Regions from separate parts of the Homo sapiens genome. Here region 1 is linked to region 2. Evidence: fine-mapped expression QTL. A gene starts in region 2. The other region holds a variant in brackets. All regions are shown on one strand. Distances are from middle to middle. Region 1 overlaps PLAAT3 (phospholipase A and acyltransferase 3). Region 2 holds the start of GANAB (glucosidase II alpha subunit).

Region 1 (15,852 bases), 950 kb before region 2:
GCAAAGGATGAAGGGGCCAGAACCAGCCTCTGATGGGCTCTGTCTCTAGGTGTTCTGAAAGGTTGATTTCTTTGCTCATTAAAGGGGTTTAAAGGTTGGCCTGGAGAAGTTCTTTACCCCTGATTCTAGTGAGAGTCGGAACTTCCCCTCCCCCAGCACTCAGTGCAGGGTCTGATTCTGGGATGTGGTTAATGCTGAATGGACGTGGATAATGTTGAATGGATGGGATCTTGAACCTCTCTGAAGTTTTCTCAAACTCTGCCCCATGCTCCCCTAACAGGGTGAGAGCATTTACTGCACCCTCCCTACCTTCCCCTTCTCACATACGCACACTCACTCTCACACGTAGTCTCACACTCATGCATCCACCCTCACACACATACTCACTCAATGTGAACATGCACACCTTAGCATCAGGCTGAGCAGCCGGGGGACATTACTGCTGGAGACTGATGCCAGTTCTCCATTAGGCCCAGGCCAGGTGTTGGGGAGTGTCTGTGGAATGCCCTCCAGATCTGGCAGCCTCTGGCATGGACCCCAGGTGGGCAGCTCTAGTCACATAACTGGTGGTGTTTCCTGATGGTCAGACTGGGCTGGGAATCAGCCAACTGGGCGTTCAGTCCTGGCCAAGTCACTCATGAGTTATATGTCTTTGCACAAATTCTTTTACATTTCTAGGCCTTGATTTCCTCATCCATAAAATGGGGTTCATCATTGGATGGTTGTGTGGATTTATTGAGCCATCTTGTAAAACATGGAGAGTGGAGTGCTTGGCTCAGAGTAAGAGTTCAATAAATAATATTCCTAGAAATAATAAGGCAGAGACTCCAGCTCATGAAGAAACCTTTTAGGTTTGCACTTGGCAATTTGTATTGACAGAAGGGCAGGCCCATGGTGCCTGCAGGTCTGGGTCACAAGCTTGTGAAGTTGGACTGGCATTGGACCTGGCAGAGCAGGGCTCAGGACATATGTTCTGCTGAGCTGATAGCTGGGGACCACTCAGCTGCACCTTCCTCACTGAGCCCTGTCCTGGTTCCACGATCTCATGCTCCCTCTAACAGCCCTGTTCTTGGTTTTGCAGCCAGAGCCTAAGCCTGGAGACCTGATTGAGATTTTTCGCCCTTTCTACAGACACTGGGCCATCTATGTTGGCGATGGATATGTGGTTCATCTGGCCCCTCCAAGTAAGAACACATGGGACCTCCACTGTGATGGGCCCCAGGGGCTGGGAAGAGAGGGGATGGGGAACTGTGGGTAACAGGTGACCCCAACATTCTTCTTGCTTCCCAACTGGCAGTTGTCTCTGAATGTTACAAGAAGTTTGATATGGGGCAGTTTGGTGTGGGGCACTGGTTTTCAAGGTCTGCTCCTGGGAACCTCAGGGGGTTCTTTAGAGCAGGGGTCCCCAACCTCCAGGCCATGGACTGGTACTGGGTAGGAACTGGGCTCCAGAGCAGGAGGTGAGTGGTGGGCAAGTGAGCGAAACTTCATCTGTATTTGCAGCTGCTCCCCATCGCTTGTATTACCGCCTGAGCTCCACCTCCTGTCAGATCAGCAGCGGCATTAGATTCTCATAGGAGCATGAACCCTACTGTGAACTGCACACGCAAGGGATCTAGGTTGCACACTCCTTGTATTAGTCTGTTTTCACACTGCTATAAAGAACTACCCGAGACTGGGTAATTTATAAAGAAAAGAGTTTTGTTTTTTGTTTTTTTTGAGACAGAGTCTTGCTCTGTCACTCAGGCTGGAGTGCAGTGGCGCAATCTCGGCTTACTGCAAGCTCCGCCTCCTGGGTTTACGCCATTCTCCTGCCTCAGCCTCCTGAGTAGCTGGGACTACTCAGGTGCCTGCCACCACACCTGGCTAATTTTTTGTATTTTTAGTAGAGACGGGGTTTCACCGTGTTAGCCAGGATGGTCTCGATCTCCTGACCTCGTGATCCACCTGCCTCAGCCTCCCAAAATGCTGGGATTGCAGGCGTGAGCCACCGCGCCCGGCCCTTCAGAAAGAGGTTTAATTGACTCACAGTTCTGCATGGCTGGGGACGCCTCAGGAAACTTACCATCATGGCAGAAGGTGAAGGGGAAGCAAGGCAGGTCTTATATGGTGGCAGGAGGCGGGGGAGTGCCACACTTTTTTTTTTTTTAGATGGAGTTTCGCTTTTCTTGCCCAGGGTAGAGTGCCATGGCACAATCTCGGCTCACTGGAAACTCCACCTCCCAGGTTCAAGTGATTCTCCTATTTCAGCCTCCCGAGTAGCTGGGATTACAGGCACCTGCCACCACGCCCGACTAATTTTTCTATTTTTAGTAGAGATGGATTTTCATCATATTGGTCAGGCTGGTCTTGAACTCTGGACCTCGGGAGATCCACCTGCCTCAGCCTCCCAAAGTGCTGGGATTACAGACATGAGCCACCATGTCCGGAGTGCCACACTTCTAAACCATCAGATCTTGTGAGAACTCACTCATTATCATGAGAACAGCATGAGGGAAATCTCGCTCATGATTCAGTCACCTCCCATATAGTCCCTCCCCTGACACATGGGGATTACAGTTTGACATGAGATTTGGGTGGGGATACAGAGCCAAACCATATCACTCCTTATGAGAATCTAATGCCTGATGATCTGTCACTGTCACCCGTCACCCCAGAAGGGACCATCTAGTTGCAGGAAAACAAGCTCAGGGCTCCTACTGATTCTGCATTATCGTCAGTTGTATGATTATTTCATTATATATTACAATGTAATAATAATAGAAATAAAGTACACAATAAATGTCATGTGCTTGAATCATCCCGAAACCATCCCTCCCCACTGCCGAGTCCATGGAAAAATTGTCTTCCACAAAACCAGTCCCTGGTGCTAAAAAGGTTGGGGACCGCTGCTGTAGAGGGACCAAGGTGGCATCTGAGGACGAAGCTCTGTTTTGATGTGTTTTTTATGCCGTGACTTTGTATGCAACACACTCAACTCTTTTTTTTTTTTTTTTTTTTTTTTTTTGACAGAGTCTCGCTCTGTCGCCCAGGCTGGAGTGTAGTGGCGCGATCTCGGCTCACTGCAAGCTCTGCCTCCGGGTTCACGCCGTTCTCCTGCCTCAGGCTCCTGAGTAGCTGGGACTACAGGCACCTGGCACCACCCCTGGCTAATTTTTTGTATTTTTAGTAGAGACGGGGTTTCACTGTGTTAGCCAGGATGGTCTCGATCTCCTGACCTCGTGATCCGCCTTCCTTGGCCTCCCACAGTGCTGGGATTACAGGCGTGAGCCACTGTGCCCGGCCGCAACACACTCAACTCTTAAGCGTAAAGCTCCTGGGAAGAGTGCAGGTGTTTGGGCAGAGAGACTTGGTTATGAATCCAGTTTCCATTCTTCAGCCTTGATTTCCTTTTTTGCAAACTGAGGATATGAATACTTAACTTGGAGAACTCTTGTGAGAATTCCTCACCCTTCTCTTAAGCCTTTAACTTAAACTGGGGTATAACATAAGTATTGTAAAATGTACAAGCATAGTAAAGTATACAGTCAGTGAATTAAAAAAAACCATCCATGTAACAGTGCCCCAGATCCACATCTAGAACATTCCCACTGTGCCACTTACCCTGAAAGGCTCTCTCATGCTTCTACAATATGCCTCCCCACGCCTCGCCCAGGCAACCATCATTCTAGCTTTTCCTGCCATAGATGAGTTTTGCCTGTTCTAGAACTTCATGGAAGAGGTATCACACGGCCCGTGCTCTTTTGTGTCTGGCTTCTTTTAGCCAACATCATGCCCATGTGAGTCATCCATGCTGCTGTGAGTAGCAGGAATTCTTTTTCACTGCTGTGTATTTTCTGTTATATGAATATGCTACAATTTAGCATCCATTTTTCTGACATCAGACTCATTGCAGGTTTTGACTGCTATGAATAGAGCTGTTATAGACACTCTTTTTTTTTTTTTTTTTTTTCCGAGACGGAGTCTTGCTCTGTGGCCCAGGCTGGAGTGCAGGGGCATGATCTTGGCTCACTGCAACCTCCACCTCCTGCTTTTAAGCGAGTCTCCTGCCTCAGCCTCTGGAGTAGCTGGGATTACAGGCACGCACCACCATGCCCAGCTAATTTTTGTATTTTTAGTAGAGATGGGATTTCACCATGTTGGCCAGGCTGGTCTCAAACCCCTGACCTCAAGTGATCTGCCTGCCTCGGCCTCCCAAAGTGCTGAGATTACAGGCGTGAGCCACCGCGCACGGCCCTTGAACATGTCTTTTGCATATCGTTTTAATTCTAACTAGTGGCCTCACCCTATCAGTAGTAACCAGAGTAGATGTCATCTTCCCCACCCTGAGCCCCTTACCCATGTACCCCCACCCCCTCCTCTTCCTTTCATAAGCACTTTGCTCCTCAAATTCCCCACCTCCTTCTGTATTGTCATCTTCTCCCTTTCAACTGGATCATTCGTATTGACATAGAGACAGCTGTAATATATCCCGTTGATCAAACGCCCGGCCTCACATCCTTCTCTGCTTAACGCCCTACAGAGCAGATCTCATTACAGCTTTGTCTGCCTGGCCACCTCCGGTTCCTCGCTTCCCATTCTGCCTTCCATCCCCTATACCCACACTTTCTTTTTTCTTTTTCTTTTTTTCTTTTTTTTGAGATGGAGTTTTGCTCTCAGACTCTCTTTTTTTGCCCCCCTGACAGAGCAGTTCTCAAGGGTAGGGAAAAGCTTCCACATCTTGCCAAAGCTTAAAGCCAAGTCCCATCACAGCTGACTTGGCTTCTCTGCAGCATTTGATGTGAGTGACCTTCCTGCTCTCCACCTGGCACCTGACTTTCTTCCTCTCCCTCTGGGCCCTTCTTTTTTGGTCTCTTGTGTGGGCTCCTCCTCCTCTCTCATTTCCCTAAATCGAGCTCAGATGACCTCATTGGATTCCTTAGCTTCCAATACCTTCTATTTGTCAATATCTCCTAAGCCCAAACCCTCAATTTACATCCCCCTTCAGCTTCAGACTTGCATAACCTCTTGACTACTTGGTAACTCCACTTGGGTGTCTACCTGGCATCTTGAACTTGATCTGCCCCAAATGGGAGGCTCCAGTGGAAGACACCATTCAGCTGCTCAGGCCTAAAGCCTAGGAGTCATTCTCCGTTCCTTCCAACCCATGTCTAATCTATCAGGGAATCCTGTTGGCTTTATCTCTGAAACAGACCCCAGCTCTGACCACTTCTTACCATCCCCACTGCAGCGCCCTGGTATGAGCAACCACCCTCCCTCGCCTGGTGGCAGTGTCACTTCTGGCTGGTCTCTCTGCCTCTTGCCACTCACGGCCAGTTCCTCATTCATGGGCAGGTGGTGTGATTGTTTGAAAGCGTAAATCAAGGGCCAGGTGCGGTGGCTCATGCCTGTAATCCCAGTATTTTGGGAGGCTGAGGTGGGTGAATCACCTGAGATCAGGAGTTTGAGACCAGCCTGGCCAACATGGCGAAACCCCGTCTCTATTAAAAATACAAAAATTAGTCGGGCATGGTGACGCGCCACTGTAGTCCTATCTACTTGGAGGCTGAGGCACGAGCAGGAGGCGGAGGCTGAGGCACGAGCAGGAGGCGGAGGCTGCAGTGAACCAAGATTGCACCACTGCACTCCAGCCTGGGTGACAGAGTGAAACCCCGTCTCAAAAAAACAAACCAAAACCAAACCAAAACAAAGCATCAAAGTCTACACTGTGGCCTGTAGGGCCCGGCCTGGTCTGGCCTGGTCTGTGACTTTGGGCCTCGTCTTTCTCTTCTCCCCTCCTGGGTCTCTAGACTCCAGCAACGTTGGCCTCCTTGCTGCCTCTTGGCATGCCAAGCTCTCTCCTCCCTGCAGACTTCATTCCTGCTGTTCCTTCTGTTCTAGATGCTTCATCATTCAAGCTTCAGCAAAGATGCCTTTTCCTTGGGGTGGCCTCCCCAGCCTGAGCAACAGCAGCCTCTGCTGGTCATCCTTGCCATGTCACTCCACTCTGTCTTTCCATAGTGTCTGTTGGTACCTGCAAGTATCTTATTTTGTGTATTTGTTCATTGTCAGCGTCTTCTCAGTAGCATGGGAATTGCTTGAGGGCAGGCCTGCTGTCCAGATCACGTCACTGACTTCAGCACCTTGGACAAGGCCCGGCACCCAGTAGGGCCTCAGTATTGATTGGCTGCACTGAGCAGGTGTGTGTGGTAGATAGAGGGTTGGGGAAGGCATGACAAGCACCCGGGTGGACAGGTGGACAGGTGTGTCACAGACCATCAGGTCAGTGATACTCCTTCAAAGGAAAAGATGCTTCTACCTGCATCTCACTTGAGTTTCACAGGAGTCATGTGGGATAGATGAGGCAAGGAGGACTGACCTTCTGCTGCTGAGAAAACTGTAGAAATTAGAGCTGGAAGGAAGCTTATAAACTTGCTGAAGTGCCTGTCCTGTGCCAGACACTGGTGAAAGCATGTTTTCTGGCCAACCCCTTTAATCCTCACAGCTGCCTGTGCAGTAGGGACTATTTTTGTTTCTATCCTACAAGGAATGGGGGACTCAGAGAAGTTAAGAAACTTACCCAAGGTTGCATAATGGTAAGGGGTGCAGGCAGGACCCAAACCCAGGCAGTCTGACTTGATTCTGTGCACTTAACCACAATGCTGCACTGCCCAGTCCAAGCTATCCCAAAATTCAGTCGCTGATGGATTGCCACATCCACATGCTCTTTCTGTGATTGTTCACTTCATATTTTCTTCAGTAGACTCACTTTTTAAAAGAAGGAACTTTAGGCCAGGTGTGGTGGCTCACACCTGTAATCCCAGAACTTTGGGAGGCCGAGGTGGGTGGATTGCTTGAGCTCGGACCAGGCTTGAGTTCGAGACCAGCCTGGCCAACATGGTGAAACCCCATCTCTACTGAAAATATAAAAATTAGCTGGGCATGGTGGTGCACACCTGTAGTCCCAGCTACTCAG[GA/A]GGTTGAGGCATGAGAATCGCTTGAACTGAGGAGGAGGAGGTTGCAGCGAGCCAAGATCACACCACTGCATTTCAGCCTGGGCAATGGAGTGAGACTCTGTCTCAAAATAAGAAAAAAAAAAGAAGGAACTTTAAATTACTGTGTTGATATGTATTTGTGCATCAATTTTAGTGTGTATTTGGGGATTTCTGGAGCAAAGTGAAGTGACAGGTCCAGACCACTCAGCTGGTTGGTGATGTGCTGGGGTCGAACCCAGAGCTTCTCACCGCCAGCTTGAGCACAGGGTACCCCTGTCCTGGGTGGCATCTAGATATAAGTTTAAGGAAGTCCTCACTCTTGGTTGTTGACTCTGCACTTGCATGGCCCTGAGATTTGGTGCCTCCTTAAACTTTGGGCTCTAGGCAACTTGCTTGCCTCTTCCGAGTCCCTGCGCTGTCACCCACTTTGCCTGGGAGCTGAGGCTGGGTGGGCCCCAGGAGCTCATCCTCCCGACAAACGCAGGGCTCCAATAAGGCACCCTCTCTTTTATTTACTTCAATGAATCTTCCAAGCTTCACGTGCCCTTTTCCTATCAAGTCTGAATTCCCTAAATTTCTAATATCTTGGCATTGCATGTAGGCATTGCATGCAGGCTGAAAAGGTTTATTGGTCTTTGGAAAGCGGAGAAGAGCAGGACCTGAAATCTAATCGGCCTCTCCTGCTGTTGCTGTCACACGGATGTCATTGTTGAAGACTGGTCCTACCCAGTTTAACAGGGTGCTGCTGTGGCACCCTGGGGGCCTTGACCCTGACAGGGTCACAGTGGCTGTTTGAGGAGAGTGAGAGTGAACCTCCTTTGACATGCTCCCTGGGTGCGTAGGCCCATCCCTTGAGTGCATACCTACTTTTTCTTTTTCTTTTTTTCCTAAGGCAAGATCTCACTCTGTTGTCCAGGTCGGAGTGCAGCGGCGCAATCTCAGCTGACTGCAACCTAAACCTCCAGGGCTCAAGTGATCCTCCTGCCTCAGCCTCCTGAGTAGCTGGGATCACAGGTGCACACCACCATACACGGCTAGTTTTTGTATTTTTTGTAGAGACGGAGTTTTGCCATGTTGCCCAGGCTTGTCTGAAACTCCTGGGCTTAAGCGATCTGCCTGCCTTGGCCTCCCAAAGTGCTGGGATTACAGGTATGAGCCACTGTGCCCAGCCCATCCCCACTTTTTCAATCATCATACTCAGTGCCTGCCTCTCCCTGCGCCACACAGGTTGTTTGAGTTGGGAGGAATGCCCAGTCTGTGTTGGCATCAGCTTTCCCTGTCCACCATCCTGGTCTTCATGTTGAACCTGGACTCCTTGTCTTCAAGATCATTTCATTTCTGGAGCTTTGTGGCCCTTCCTTGCCCTGGGCCTTGGCCTGGGCTGTGCCCATGTACCCACTAAGCCTCCTTAGCATCCATCACAGCTAGGGGGACAGCTGTGCGTTTTGGTGGGTCTGTTTCCAGAAGGGCTGGGACTCTGGAAAACCCAGCCATGTTTTCTGCAGTAAGCAGCTTTGTGTGGTCAAGTAGGTGTAGCCCTGATGCCATCATAAAAGTCTCCCACCTTATCTTCCCAGGTGGATGAGTATGCTCTTGGCTCATATTTGCATAACCAAGGGGGCCACTTAAGTGTCATGAGGTATAGAAGACCACCTTCTCTAGAGTAAGAAAAAAATCACAGTAAATCATGGAACTTCACTCCCTTTCATTTTAGATAAGGAAACCAGGGCCCAGAGACCACACACACCTTCCCCAAGGCCCACAGCCATGCGTCTGACCCTTCCACTTGTTGCTTATCCTTTGTGGATGAGCCAAGGGCAGATGCCCGGCTGGGGGCCAGCTCTGAGCCTCCGTGGCCCTTCCCAGGACCAATCCCTCTGTTTCCTCTTTGTGGATCTGCAGGTGAGGTCGCAGGAGCTGGTGCAGCCAGTGTCATGTCCGCCCTGACTGACAAGGCCATCGTGAAGAAGGAATTGCTGTATGATGTGGCCGGGAGTGACAAGTACCAGGTCAACAACAAACATGATGACAAGTACTCGCCGCTGCCCTGCAGCAAAATCATCCAGCGGGCGGAGGAGCTGGTGGGGCAGGAGGTGCTCTACAAGCTGACCAGTGAGAACTGCGAGCACTTTGTGAATGAGCTGCGCTATGGAGTCGCCCGCAGTGACCAGGTGCGTCCTCTGCCTGTGTCGCCTTCCCCAGGAACCAGACCATTCCCTCTGCTGACGGAGGCTGGGCATGGCTATGGAGGCATGAACAAGACAAAATAGCAGAGACAGAATTACTGCCCTTGAGGATGTCACAGTTGGGACAAGGGTGGGGACAAGGGTGGGGAGAGAGGCAAGTTGGCAATGCAGATCAGTGTAGTCGGGGGCGGGGGTGGGTGGCCAAGGAAAGGAGTCACAGACATGATGATCATTCCCATTGCCAAGCCCTCCCTGGCCACCTGTCCCTGAGATGGCCCTCCCCAGCCCTAAAGGCAGGTTTTAGGACCCACTACCTTACAGATTGGGAAACTGAGCTTAAGTAACTTGTCTACAGCCATTCATTTCATCAAAAAAATCTTTGTTGAGTCTCCAGACCTGGTACCTGTCTTTTCCTGTGCAGATAATTAGCAGAGTTGGGATTTGAAGCCCAGGTCTGTGTGGCATAGCCTGATCGTGCTTATAAACAGCACTGTCTTCAGCCTGGCTGAACCCTAAGGGTGAATCTGGGAGACCCTAGGGGATGCAGTTTTGTTCATTTACTTGATTTTATTTTTGTCTTTCCTCTCCTTTCAATCTCTTTTTCTCTTCTCATTTCCTTGCACTTCTTCCCCCTCCCTTTCAGCCACTTCCATCTTTTTTTTTTTTTTTTTCTTTGCATAGGTGAAAAGAACATTGGGAAGGTTCTTACATGGCTGTTGATGCAAAAGAATACATATTTTTTTCAGTGAATGATTAGCTTAAGATCCATCAGGCTGTTCACTTTTATTATTATTTTTTTTGAGATCCAATTTCTTCTTCCCTGGTCAGTGTGGTGGTTAAGAGCCTGGGCTCCTGGAGTCAGGCCAACGTGGGCTGGACCTGGTCTCTGCCTTTTGCCGGCTGTCTGACCTCAGGAGAGTTAGTCCAGCTCCCTACACTTTGGTAAAGTACGAATGATAATACTCATCTTGGAGGATTACCTTGTGAATTAAATAAGAGCATGTTTATTCTTAGCACACTGAATACATTGTAGTAGTAAAAATAGTCATGATTATCCTCATTTTTTTTTTTTAAATTATCCTCCTCTTTTTTTTTTTTTTTTTTTTTGCTTGGCTCATCCATTGCCTGGTCCCCTGGCCTCTGTGGGCCACAGCCACTTGAATGGGAAGACACTGACTAACACCACCTATAGGAATCACTCTTACTCTCTTCATACTGCTGATAACCAGCTGTGCTTACTACACCAACCCTCATGTTTGTTAGGCGGTTCCTATACCTGTCTACAGTGGGATATTAGTTACCTTTGAATGGGTATCCTCTTATTTTTTTCTTCGATCAGTTGGGTTATTCATGTTCAACAACTATTTATATATGAATGTTAAAGGTGATCAACTTAGAAATTGAGTAGGTGGTACATAGCTAACTAGGTAAAGAAAGGGCAATATTGCCAATGTTTGTGAAGATTGCAGTCTGTTGGTCATGGTCTGGCTTCAACTTCCCTGAGAGTTGATAAGAGCTTTCTTCTGGGGAATCAGTGGGCAGGGCCATGAGAAGAACTTCATTAGTGCCTGAATATTGTCAGGTTAAAAAGGTGATGCAGTGAAAGAAAGCAGGAGACCAGGGGATGGTGGCACTTACTACATCTATCTCTTGGGGATAACAGCCTTCAAAACATTTGTGTCTTGTTTTTCTTTTCTTAAAACAATTTTATTTTAGGCCGGGCACAGTGGCTCGCACCTGTAATCCCAGCACTTTGGGAGACTAAGGCGGGCAGACCACTTGCGGTCAGGAGTTTGAGACCAGCCTGGCCAACATGGTGAAACCCCATCTCTACTAAAAATACAAAAATTAGCCGGGCATGGTGCTGGGCATCTGTAATCTCAGCTACTCAGGAGGCTGAGGCAAGAGAATCACTTGAATCCGGGAGGCAGAGGTTGCAGTGAGCCGAGATCACACCACTGCACTCCAGCCTAGGTGACAGAGCAAGACCCAGTCTCAAAAAAAATTTTTTTTATTTTATTGTTTTTTATTTTAATAGAGATGAGGTCTCACTCTGTTGCCAAGGCTGGTCTTGAACTCCTGAGCTCAAATGATCCTAACGCCTCAGCCTCCCAAAGTGCTAGGATTACAGGCATAAGCCACTGTGCCCGGCCACATTTGTCTCTTGTCACACTTGATGAGGCATTGCTGTCATCTTGGTATCTCTCTTTACTAGCATCCTAGAAATTTCTTTCAGTTCCCTGCTATATTAATGCTTTTATCCTCTGTAGTTCACATCCTTCTCTTTTTTGGTTTATGCCCTTGTTTTGGTAGACTACTTCCCCTAATAGTTTACTGAGAAATGGTACATTTTAAAAAGATCCCTAGGCAGGCATGGTGACATGCGCCTGTAATCCCAGCTACTGGTGAGGCTGAGGCACGAGAATTGCTTGGACCCAGGAGGCAGAGGTTGCAGTGAGCCGAGATCACGCCACTGTACTCCAGCCTGGGTGACAGAGTGAGACTTGGTCAGAAAAAAAAAAAAAAAGACCCAAGAAACAAAAAACAAACAAAAAAAGATCTTGCATGCCTGAAAATATCTTTATTTTATCCTCACATTTGATTAATCATTTGGCTGGGTATAGAATTCTAGGTTAGAAATAATATTTTTTTTTTCAGAATTTTGAAGGCATTGGTTTATTGTCATCTAGCTTTTGTTATTGTGGTAGAGAAGTCTGAAGCTGTTCTGATTTTTTATTGTTTGTATGTGATCTATTTTTTCTTTTCAGAACTGTATAGAATCTTCTCTTCATCCTCAGTGTTCTGAAATTTATTACCTTGCACGGGTCTATTTTCATGTATTGTGCCAGGTACTTGGAAACTCACTTTCTTTAGTTCTTGGAAATTTTCCAGTTTGTATTCTCTGGCACTCCTATTATTAGGCTATTGGATCCCTAGACTGCTTTGCTGATTTTCTTATCTTCTCTCTCTTGTTTTTTATTTATGTATCTTTTTATTTATTAAGACAGAGTCTTGTTTCGTCACCCAGGCTAGAGCACAGTGGTGCGATGTTGGCTCGCTGTAACCTCTGCCTCCTGGGTTCAAGTGATTCTTCTGCCTCAGCCTCCAGAGTGGCTGGGAATAAAGGCATGTGCCACCACACCTGGGTAATTTTTGTATTTTTATTAGAGATGTGGTTTCCCCATATCGGCCAGGCTGGTCTGGAACTCCTGACTGCAAGTGATCTGCCTGTTTCTGCCTCCCAAAGTGCTAAGATTACAGGCGTGAGCCACTGTGCCTGGCCCATTTATGTATCTTTTTAAATTTGAAAATGAACATTTATTGACAGATTTAGGTATAATAGAAGTTTTTTTTTTTTGAATTAGCAGTGACAATATTAGCATAAGAAAGACAAACATGATAACAAATTGAGTTTCATCATTGGTGATCTTGCATCACTATCAAGGTGTTTACTTACTCTTGGTAAAACTCATGCTCCTATGCAGCAATAAACTCCAAATACAGAGTACAAGACAACCTTGGGAAGCAATAAGATACTTTTTGAAATTCAGAGTTCTACGTTAAGAATATTTGGTAGGTTTACAAAATATATCCTAATCATCTCATTTAGTTATTCTTTCAGCAGTTATTAACAGAATAAAGAACGGGGCTGGCCGGGCGTGGTGGCTCACGCCTGTAATCCCAGCACTTTGGGAGGCTGGGGTGGGTGGATCACCTAAGGTGAGGAGTTTGAGACCACCCTGGCCAACATGGTGAAACCCCGTCTCTACTAAAAATACAAAAATTAGCTGGGTGTGATGGCGGGCACCTGCAGTCCCAACTACTCAGGAGGCTGAGGCAGGAGAATCGCTTGAACCCTGGAGGTGGAGGTTGCAGTGAGCCAAGATTGCGCCAGTGTACTCCAGCCTGGGCAACAGAGCGAGACTCCTTCTCAAACACACACATACACGTGCACACACACACACACACACACCCAAGTAGCTGAGACTATGGGTGCACATCACCATGCCTGGCTGATTTTTGTATTTTTTGTAGAGACAGGGTCTCACTTTGTTGTCTGGGCTGGTCTTAAACTCTTGGTCTCTAGCAACCCTCCTGCCTCAGTCTCCCAAAGTGCTGGAATTATAGATGTGAGCCACTGCGCCTGGCCATAAATGCTATTTGGAGTAATTAAATAAAATTCCAAATCTTGAGATAGTAAAATAACTAAGAAATGTCTTATACCATTATTCTTTTTGTAAACAATAATTTAACACTTGCAAAATGAAACAATGCAAATTGAACACATCACACTTTTCTTCCTGGGACTTTGGCCCTACCCATCTACCCATTCACTTGAAAGAGGCAAAACAATGATAACACAACAGTGAAACAGCATGAACAATTCTACTTGATCCCATCACAGAAAATGAAGCCAGAATATTCTACAACAAAAACAGAGGTGCCATCTCTACTGCTTCTAAAGATTTCCTCTTTCATTTCTTGGTCTAGGATAGGGGTTTCTCAGCCTCAGCACTATTGACATTATGGGCCAGATAATTCTTCATTGTCAAGTCCTGTCCTGTGCACTGTAGGATGCTTAGCAGCATCCCTGGCCTCTACACACTAGATACCAGTAGCATCCCACCGCCAGATGTAAGAACCAAAAACGTCTGTAGACAATTCCCCCCACAGGGAAAAACTGTCTCCAGTTGAGAACTAGTGACTTAGGTGAGTAATGATCACTGACACATGCTGTGAGTCAAATTAACATAGAACTTCTGGCCGGGCGCAGTGGCTCATGCCTGTAATCCCAGCACTTTGAGAGGCCGAGGCGGGCAGATCATGAGGTCAAGAGATCGAGACCATACTGGCCAACATGGTGAAACCCCGTTTCTACTAAAAATACAAAAATTAGCTGGGCGTGGTGGTGTGCACCGGTAGTCCCGGCTACTCGGGAGGCTGAGGCAGAATTGCTTGAACCCGGGAGGTGGAGGTTGCAGTGAGCCAAGATTGCGCCATTGCACTCCAGGCTGGGCAACAAGAGCAAAACTCCATCTCAAAAAAAAAAAAAAAGAACTTCGATGCATGCCCCATCTTGCTAGAGATGATAGATTTAGTACATATCAGAAAATGTCCACCAGTATTTTTCTTTGTAAGCACTGTCAGTGCAGTGACTCTCCTTTTCATTTAACTCATGAGGATATTTTTGTGTGTTTTAAAGAATCTGACCAGTCATTATATTTGTGCTGAGCTCTTTGAAGCAGACTAGATTTTCCTTCAAAAGAATATTTATGGCCAGGTGCGGTGGCTCACGCCTGTAATCCCAGCACTTTGGGAGGCCAAGGCAGGTGGATCACGAGGTCAGGAGATCAAGACCATCCTGGCTAACCTGGTGAAACCCCGTCTCTACTATAAATACAAAACAAAATTAGCTGGGCGTGGTGGCCTGTAGTCGCAGCTACTTGGGAGGCTGAGGCAGGAGAATGGCGTGAACCCAGGAGGCGGAGCTTGCAGTGAGCCGAGATTGCACCACTGTACTCCAGCCTGGGCGACTGAGCAAGACTCTGTCTCAAAAAAAAAAAAACAAAAAAAAACAAAAAAAAAAGTTTATGATTAATCAAATTTCCTGAGAAGGGAAACAATGAATTTAAACTAAAACGTAATTTGTGCTTTACATGCCTAAGAATATTCTAAAAAAAAGATTCTCCTACTTTCCACCTACCTAAAAATATTTAGGTTTCAAAAAACATATATTTTAGTAGGGTTTTGTAAAGAAACTTTCATACTGAACAGTACTTAAAAAAAAAAAAAAAGCAACCAGAAGCTATACTCACAATGAAGTCTAGTCTGAGTGAGAGAAAATATTAAGGTAAATAGAAATTGAAGATGTGTCTGGCGGCAATACATATATTACATAAATCTGGATAAATTGTGGGGTATTATTTTGAAATTACTGTAAATGAAACCAAATTTTTATGCAAATATTTTATTTCTTTTTAAATGATTTATTATTTTTTGTATACTTGATCACTGTTGGAAAATATACAACTATTTCATAACCATTCTTATATTGTAACCTCTAACAGTCTCAATTGGATTGCTTTCAGAATAACACTACTATCTCCACTTCTTCTTTAATCCACCTATAACATTGTTGAAAGTGAAGGCAGCACATTAGCACTTTCTTTTTTCCAGAAATGATTTAGATTTCCCTAAATCAAGGCTTAACTCAGAAGAGCTTTGTAGTATAAATGTCTAAATGTCTGTAGTCTGGCAGAATTTGTTTGCCCACTTAAAAAAAAAACAGTCTTCTTAATATTTCTAATGAGAGACAGCTTTTCTCTTTCACAATATCCTGATATCCTGATTTAAGACCTGTGACACACACCAGGTAGCCCATTTTCATGATCAGAAATCCTGTAATAACAACACAGCAGCTGGATTGGACCTTTCAGTCTTGCAACATGAAAATGATCAATGGCATCTGAAGGTAGCACTGACTCTTGGAGAGAGAGTTTTTCCCATCAAGTTTGCACTATTAGGACTAACTAGCTTCCAACAGTCTTGTGTTTAATCATACTCTTTGACTATGTACAAAGCATGGCCACAAACAATGAGGTTATTGTTGTTTTCCTTGACAAAGTATCTTTTGTATGAACCAGTTGCATCAGCTTTTGTTTTCACACCATGAGGTTCTATAAAGAACTAGG
Region 2 (8,000 bases):
CACCTGCTCGGGCTGCTGTGCTTGACCACTTGAGAGGTGTCTTTGATGAGAGTGTCCGGGCCCACCTGGCTGCCCTGGATGAAACCCCTGTGGCTGGTCCACCTCACCTCCGTCCACCTCCACCCTCTCATGTCCCTGCTGGTGGACCTGGTCTAGAGGATGTGGTTCAGGAAGTGCAGCAGGTGCTGTCTGAGTTTATCCGGGCCAACCCAAAGGCCTGGGCACCTGTGATTAGTGCATGGTCCATTGACCTCATGGGGCAACTGAGCAGCACGTACTCAGGCCAGCACCAGCGTGTTCCCCACGCTACTGGCGCTCTTAATGAACTGCTACAGCTGTGGATGGGTTGTAGGGCCACGCGTACATTAATGGACATCTATGTGCAGTGCCTCTCGGCTCTCATTGGTAGCTGCCCAGATGCGTGTGTGGATGCCTTGCTGGATACCTCTGTTCAGCATTCTCCACACTTTGACTGGGTTGTGGCACATATTGGCTCCTCTTTTCCTGGCACCATCATTTCCCGGGTTCTCTCCTGTGGCCTTAAGGACTTTTGTGTCCATGGTGGGGCTGGAGGTGGAGCTGGCAGTAGTGGTGGAAGCTCTTCTCAGACCCCCTCTACAGACCCCTTCCCTGGATCTCCTGCCATTCCTGCGGAGAAACGGGTGCCCAAGATTGCCTCAGTTGTAGGCATCCTAGGTCACCTGGCCTCCCGCCACGGAGATAGCATCCGACGGGAGCTCCTGCGAATGTTCCATGATAGCCTGGCAGGGGGATCTGGAGGCCGCAGTGGGGACCCCTCCCTTCAGGCCACGGTTCCGTTCCTACTGCAGCTGGCAGTCATGTCACCAGCTTTGCTGGGCACTGTCTCTGGAGAGCTTGTGGATTGCCTCAAGCCCCCAGCTGTGCTGAGCCAGCTGCAGCAACACCTTCAAGGATTCCCCCGAGAGGAGCTGGACAACATGTTGAACCTGGCTGTGCACCTGGTGAGCCAGGCCTCTGGGGCAGGTGCCTACCGCTTGCTGCAGTTCCTGGTGGACACAGCTATGCCTGCTTCGGTCATTACCACCCAGGGCCTGGCTGTGCCAGACACCGTGCGTGAGGCTTGTGACCGGCTAATCCAGCTGCTGCTGCTGCACCTGCAAAAACTGGTTCATCACCGGGGAGGGTCTCCTGGGGAAGGGGTGCTAGGCCCGCCCCCACCTCCCCGCTTGGTGCCCTTTTTAGATGCGCTCAAAAACCATGTTGGAGAGCTGTGTGGAGAGACGTTACGATTGGAACGGAAGCGCTTCCTCTGGCAGCACCAGCTCTTGGGCCTGCTGTCTGTCTATACCCGGCCTAGCTGTGGACCTGAGGCCTTGGGCCATCTGCTGAGCCGAGCCCGAAGCCCTGAAGAGTTGAGTTTGGCCACCCAGTTATATGCAGGGCTAGTGGTCAGCCTCTCTGGCCTCCTGCCCCTGGCTTTCCGAAGCTGTCTGGCTCGGGTGCATGCAGGGACATTACAGCCTCCCTTCACGGCCCGGTTCCTGCGCAACTTGGCACTGCTAGTAGGGTGGGAACAGCAGGGTGGCGAGGGCCCTGCAGCCCTAGGGGCGCACTTTGGGGAATCTGCCTCAGCCCATCTGTCTGACCTGGCTCCTCTCCTGCTACATCCTGAGGAGGAAGTAGCTGAAGCTGCTGCCTCTCTCCTGGCCATTTGTCCCTTTCCTTCTGAAGCCTTATCCCCCTCCCAGCTCCTGGGACTGGTAAGGGCTGGGGTGCACCGCTTCTTTGCCTCTCTGAGGCTGCATGGACCCCCAGGTGTGGCCTCAGCCTGTCAGCTTCTCACCCGCCTGTCTCAGACATCCCCAGCTGGGCTCAAGGCTGTCCTGCAGCTGCTGGTTGAAGGAGCCTTACATCGAGGCAACACAGAACTGTTTGGTGGGCAAGTAGATGGGGACAATGAGACTCTCTCAGTTGTTTCAGCTTCTTTGGCTTCTGCCTCCCTGTTGGACACTAACCGGAGGCACACTGCAGCTGTGCCAGGTCCTGGAGGGATTTGGTCAGTTTTCCATGCTGGAGTCATCGGCCGTGGCTTAAAGCCACCCAAGTTTGTCCAGTCACGAAATCAGCAGGAAGTGATCTATAACACCCAGAGCCTCCTCAGCCTCCTGGTTCACTGCTGCAGTGCCCCAGGGGGCACTGAATGTGGGGAATGCTGGGGGGCACCCATCTTGAGTCCAGAGGCAGCCAAAGCAGTGGCAGTGACCTTGGTGGAGAGTGTGTGTCCCGATGCAGCTGGTGCAGAGCTGGCCTGGCCCCCCGAGGAACACGCCCGGGCCACCGTGGAGCGGGATCTCCGCATTGGCCGGCGCTTCCGCGAACAGCCCCTGCTCTTTGAGCTGTTAAAGCTGGTAGCAGCTGCACCCCCAGCCCTGTGCTACTGTTCCGTGCTGCTTCGGGGGCTGCTGGCCGCCCTCTTGGGCCATTGGGAAGCCTCTCGCCACCCTGACACGACCCACTCCCCCTGGCACCTGGAGGCATCCTGCACCTTAGTGGCTGTCATGGCTGAGGGAAGCCTCCTGCCTCCGGCCCTGGGTAATATGCATGAAGTATTTAGCCAACTGGCACCTTTCGAGGTGCGTCTGCTGCTGCTCAGTGTCTGGGGTTTTCTCCGGGAGCATGGGCCCTTGCCTCAGAAGTTCATCTTCCAATCAGAGCGGGGTCGCTTCATTCGGGACTTCTCCAGGGAGGGTGGAGGTGAGGGTGGACCCCATCTGGCTGTGCTGCACAGTGTCCTCCACCGCAACATCGACCGCCTAGGTCTTTTCTCTGGCCGTTTCCAGGCACCTTCACCGTCCACTCTCCTTCGACAGGGGACGTAGCCTTTTCTTGCTCTGGAAGCCCAGGGAGGTTGAGCAGTGAGAGAGGGAAGGGACTAACGTGCTCCGGAAGGGTGGAGGTTTCTCTTCTAAGTCCTTGGTCTAAAGAGCGCTGTCACTTTTTTCTCTCCCACTTTTTTTTTTCTAAATAAAATTTGCCAACTTGAGAAAACCAGTCCAGTGCTTCTGTCATGCTGAGAGCGTGCAAAGTCTGACAGCGCCTGGCTCTGGACGTTCCCGCCCCTGGCCTGAAGCCCCGCCCCCTGCGATAATTTGGAGTGCGCACTCTACCAATGAGACAGCTGCCCGGCGGCGCTCAGGTCGAACCAATCATAAGGCCGGAAGGGGCGGGAACTAGGATACGTGGCTGAGCGCGCGCGATGGGGCGGGAGGTTTGGGGTCAAGGAGCAAACTCTGCACAAGATGGCGGCGGTAGCGGCAGTGGCGGCGCGTAGGAGGCGGTGAGGAGCCCGGAATCTGGGGGCGCGCCCGGGACGCCCCCAGATCCCCCAAGTCCCATTCCACTCCTTCCTGTGTGTCTCTTGACACTCTGCCACCCCCGGCCTCGTGAGGAACCTTTGTTCCTCTGGAGGCGGCCTCAGACGCCTCCGGTCTCCCCGTGGTAGATCCGAGCGACGCTGGGGGCCTTGCCTGTGGGGCTCCGGGCTCCCGCCCGGCGGTTTAGTAAAGCCACAGCTGTGCGTCTTTCTTGGTCTTGGCCGCTCTCAGCCGCCGCCCTCCTTTGGCTGCTTGCGGCGGTCAACGTCGCCGCCCCCTTCCTGCAGTGCGCGGGGTCGTCGGGGCGGGGGAAAAGATGCGGCCTGGCCTCGGGGAATGCAGCCTGCGGCCCCGCGGCCCCTCGGCTGAGCTGGAAGCACCGGGCCAGCAGTTAAGCCTGTACTACCCTTCTGGCTCTACCCTGTAGAGCTCCGAATCCTCCTCTGCCCTTGTCTTCACGTGAGCACCAGCTCTGGCTTAGTTCAGTGTCCACGGTCGCTGGGCACGGCCCAGGGTCCAGTAAGCTCACGGCGTGGATGGTGTTGCTCAAACACAACATGTAATCGAATGGCTTGGTCCACGCTCTCGGGTTTATATTACTGGGGAAAAAAAAAGATTCGAAACATATCACCAGTGCCACAAATGTTTACTAGGACCTAACGGATATACTGGGGTGGGGTAGGCGTGTACTCTCCAAAGCGATGAAGAAAGCGTGGATCATAAACTCAGTTCCCTCGGAGCCTGTGATCTGAAACAATAAATGCGTGCAACTTGCCCTGCAGCTTATTCCTGACTTTGGCCTATGAACACCTCTCTTGGGGTGGTCAAGGCCGCCGTGAATTCCTTAGGGCCCTCCAACAGGTCATATCTGAAAGATGCTTTAGGAATCCTATCTCCATTGGCATCTTTCCGAACCAATTTTACAGACTGTGCAAATAGGGCCCCAGAGGGTATTTAACTCACTGTACGTCTTTTTTTTTTTTTTTTGAGAGACAGAGTCTCGCTCTGTTGCCCAGGCTGGAGTGCAGTGGCGAGATCTCGGCTCACTGCAAGCTCCGCCTCCTGGGTTCACGCCATTCTCCTGCCTCAGCCTCCCGAGTAGCTGGGACTACAGGCACCCGCCACCACGCCTGGCTATTTTTTTGTATTTTTAGTAGAGACGGGGTTTCACTATGTTGGTGAGGATGATCTCGATCTCTTGACCTCGTGATCCACCCGCCTCGGCCTCCCAAAGTGCTGGGATTACAGGCGTGAGCCACCGCGCCCGGCCTCAACTCACTGTACTTCTATTTACTGCTGCTTTTGGCAGGTGGACGTGGGTCAGTGGCCAAGAGTGCCTGTTGCAGTCACTCAGGTCACTCACTGCAGGACCTGTGCCGCATGCCTTGCTATGGAGTTTTGTGGTAGCATTTATTCTGCTTGGCCTATTAAACCACAGTGCCTAGTGTTTTCTTCATTTTTCTGTCTGGCCTGCTGTGGAACAGTTGTTTCGTACATTCCTCTGGAGCTGGAGGAGAGTCCTGTGATGAGATCATAGTACACTCTGTGATCTCATTTCTGGTAATTTTCTTTTAGCTTTCAAGCAGATGCTGAAGCTAATGCTAGATAACTAGATACAATGTGTATAATAGACCCTGTCTTTAGTTACCTTATTATAGGTTGTCAAATTTTATTTATTTATTTATTTGTTTGTTTACTTATTGAAACAGGGTCTCGCTCTGTTGCCTAGGATGGAGTGCAGGGGTGCAATCTCGGCTTACTCCAGCTTCCACCTCCCGAGTTCAAGCGATTCTCCTGCCTCATCCTCCCGAGTCCTGGGATTACAGACGTGTGCCACCGTGCCCAGCTAATTTTTGTATTTTTAGTAGACACCCCATTGACCAGTCTTAATTAATTTACTTTTTTGAGACAGAGTCTTGTGCTGTGGCCCAGGCTGGAGAGCAGTGGTGCAATCGTAGCTCATGCAGCCTCAAACTCTTGCGTTCAGGCAGTCCTCCGGCTTCAGCCTCCTGATTAGCTGGGACTACAGGCACCTGCCACCATGCCTTGCTACTCTTTTTTTTTTTTAAGTAGAGACGAGGTCTTGCTGTGTTGCCCAATCTTCCCTTTTTGACCTCCCAAAGTGCTAGGATTATAGACGTGAGCCACTGTGCCTGGCTGGTTGTAAAACTTTATTGCTTAGAAGAACCCTCCCACCCCCAGTTTGAAACACTTTCTCAGAGTATGCTCGTATTCTGCCCATATCAGTGTCACTGGGAGAGCATGTTTAAAATGTGGTGTCAGCCGGGCACGATGGCTCACACCTGTAATCCCAGCACTTTGGGAGGCCGAGGCTGGCGAATCACCTGAGGTTGGGAGTTCGAGACCAGCCTGACCAACACAGAGAAACCCCGTCTCTACTAAAAATACAAAATTAGCCGAGTGTGGTGGCACGCGCCTGTAATCCCAGCTACTTGGGAGGCAGAGGCAGGAGAATTGCTTGAACCCGCGAGGCAGAGGTTGCGGTGAGCCAAGATCGTGCCATTGCACTCCAGCATGGGCAACAAGAGTGAAACTCAGTTTCAAAAAAAATTAAAAATAAAATGCGGTATCCAGGGTGGGTGCAGTGGCTCACGCCTGTAATTCCAGCATTTTGGAAGGCCAAGGTGGAAAGATGGCTTTAGCCTAGAAGTTCAAGACAAGCCTGGGCAACTTTTTTTTCTTGTTTTTGAGACAGAGTCACACTTTGTCACCCAGGCTAGAGTGCAGTGGTGCGATCTCAGCTCACTGCAACCTCTGACTCCCAGGCTCAAACCATTCTCGTTCCTCAGCCTCCCCAGTAGCTGGGATTATAGGCATGTGCCACTACGCCTGGCTAATTTTTGTATATATCTATTTTTTTCTAGGTGGTGTTTCGCTGTGTCGCCCAGGCTGGAATGCAGTGGCACAACCTTGGCTCACTGCAACCTCTGCCTCCCGGGTTCAAGCAATTTTCCTGCCTCAGCCTCCTGAGTAGCTGGGACTGCAGGCGTGTGCCACCATGCCCTGTTAATTTTTTTTTTGTATTTTTAGTAGAGACGGGGTTTCATCATGTTGGCCAGGCTGGCCTCAAACTCCTGACCTCAGGTGATCCACCCGCCTCAGCTTCACAAAGAGCTGGGATTACAGGTGTGAGCCACCACGCCCGGCCTAATTTTTGTATTTTTAGTAGAGATGGAGTTTCGCCATGTTGGCCAGGCTGGTCTAACTCCTGATCTCGTGATCTGCCCACCTGGGCCTCCCAAAGTGCCAAGATTATAGGTGTGAGCTACCATGCCTGGCTGATTCTTAACAGACATTAAAATTTGAGAATCTCTGTTTAGGATTTATTCAGAATCCTAAGGATGAATCCTGGATGAATATATTCTTCAAACTAACTTATTTAAATAAGCCTATTAGTCTCTTATCTGTCATTTCATAGCACATTGGGAAATTGACAATTCGTGATAACCTTGGGATGATGGTCCTCAATGAGACAGGCCCATTTCATCCTGCTAGTGATTAGTGTGCTGTATTGTGCATCATGGTAAAGCACATGGGCCCCAGAGTCAAGCACAACTGGGTTCAGTTCGTTTCATCCCTTACCAGCTATTTAATCTTGGGTGAACTATTCAACCTTTTATGCTTTAATTTTCCCATCTGGAAATAAACCCCAACCCTATATTCACCAAGAAAACAATGGAAGAAAGGGAAAAGAAGATGCATGTAAAGAAGTGGTTGTGAACCCAGGTTGCTCATTAGAGTTGTTTAGGGAACTTTAAAAAAACTTTAGCCAGTGGGGCGCGATGACACAACGCCTGTAATCCCAGCACTGTGGGAGACTGAGACGGGCGGATCTAGGTCAGGAGTTCGATACGAGCCTGGCCAACATGATGAAACCCCGTCTCTACTAAAAATACAAAAAATTAGCTGGGCATGGTGGTGGGCACCTGTAATCCCAGCTGCTCGGGAGGCTGAGGCGGGAGAATCGCTTGAACCCAGGAGGCAGAGGTTGCAGTGAGCTGAGATCATGTCACTGCACTCCAACCTGGGTGACAGAGCAAGGCTCCATCTCAAAAAAAAAAAAAAAGTCTGATGCCCAGGCTTCTCTCTGATTAAGTTAAAATTTTTAGAAGTGAGACCAGGTCACTGATATTGTTAAAAACTGCAGGCAGGCTGGGCACAGTGGCTGACACTATAATCCCAACACTTTGGGAGGCCAAGATGGGAGGACTGCTTGAGCCCAGGAGTTTAAGACCAGCCTGGGCAACAAAGTGAGGCCCTGTTGCTACCAAAAAAAATTTTTATTTATTTTTTTTGAGTCAGAGTCACGCTCTGTTGCCCAGGCTGGAGTGCAATGGCATGATCTGCTCAGTGTAACCTCCACCTCCTGGTTCAAGCAGTTCTCCTGCCTCAGCCTCCTGAATAGCTGGGATTACAGGCCCCTGCTCCCATGCCTGGCTAATTTTTGTATTTTTAGTAGAGATGGGGTTTCACCATATTGGCCAGGCTGGTCTCTTTGCCAGCCTGGTCTCGAACTCCTGACCTTGTGATCCGCCCACCCCGGCCTCCCAAAGTGCTGGGTTTACAGGTGTGAGCCACTGCGCCTGGCCAGAAAAAAAACAAAAACCACAACTTTTTAAAAAT

Evidence for each region. PIP is the estimated chance that this variant, and not a neighbour inherited with it, causes the effect.
Region 1: its variant is fine-mapped to the expression of GANAB in ovary (GTEx, PIP 0.93).

What each region holds. Positions count from the first base shown.
Region 1 is chr11:63,583,393-63,599,244 of GRCh38, reverse strand. It overlaps PLAAT3 (phospholipase A and acyltransferase 3), which reads left to right. Exons shown (of 5, transcript NM_001128203.2): 3 at 1,082-1,184; 4 at 8,877-9,145. LOC105369335 (a long non-coding RNA gene) reads right to left here. Exons shown (of 3, transcript XR_950179.3): 2 at 12,618-12,677; 3 at 9,155-9,216. Among named protein-coding and RNA genes, the nearest start is that of PLAAT3, 23 kb to the left of the region's middle. The variant GA/A (reference allele first, on the strand shown) is at 6,956.
Region 2 is chr11:62,641,881-62,649,880 of GRCh38, reverse strand. It overlaps GANAB (glucosidase II alpha subunit), which reads left to right and starts at 3,268. Exons shown (of 24, transcript NM_198334.3): 1 at 3,268-3,319. The coding sequence starts at 3,282. INTS5 (integrator complex subunit 5) reads left to right here. Exons shown (of 2, transcript NM_030628.2): 2 at 1-3,033. The coding sequence ends at 2,861. RefSeq lists a silencer at 3,097-3,176 and enhancers at 3,787-3,946, 4,262-5,069.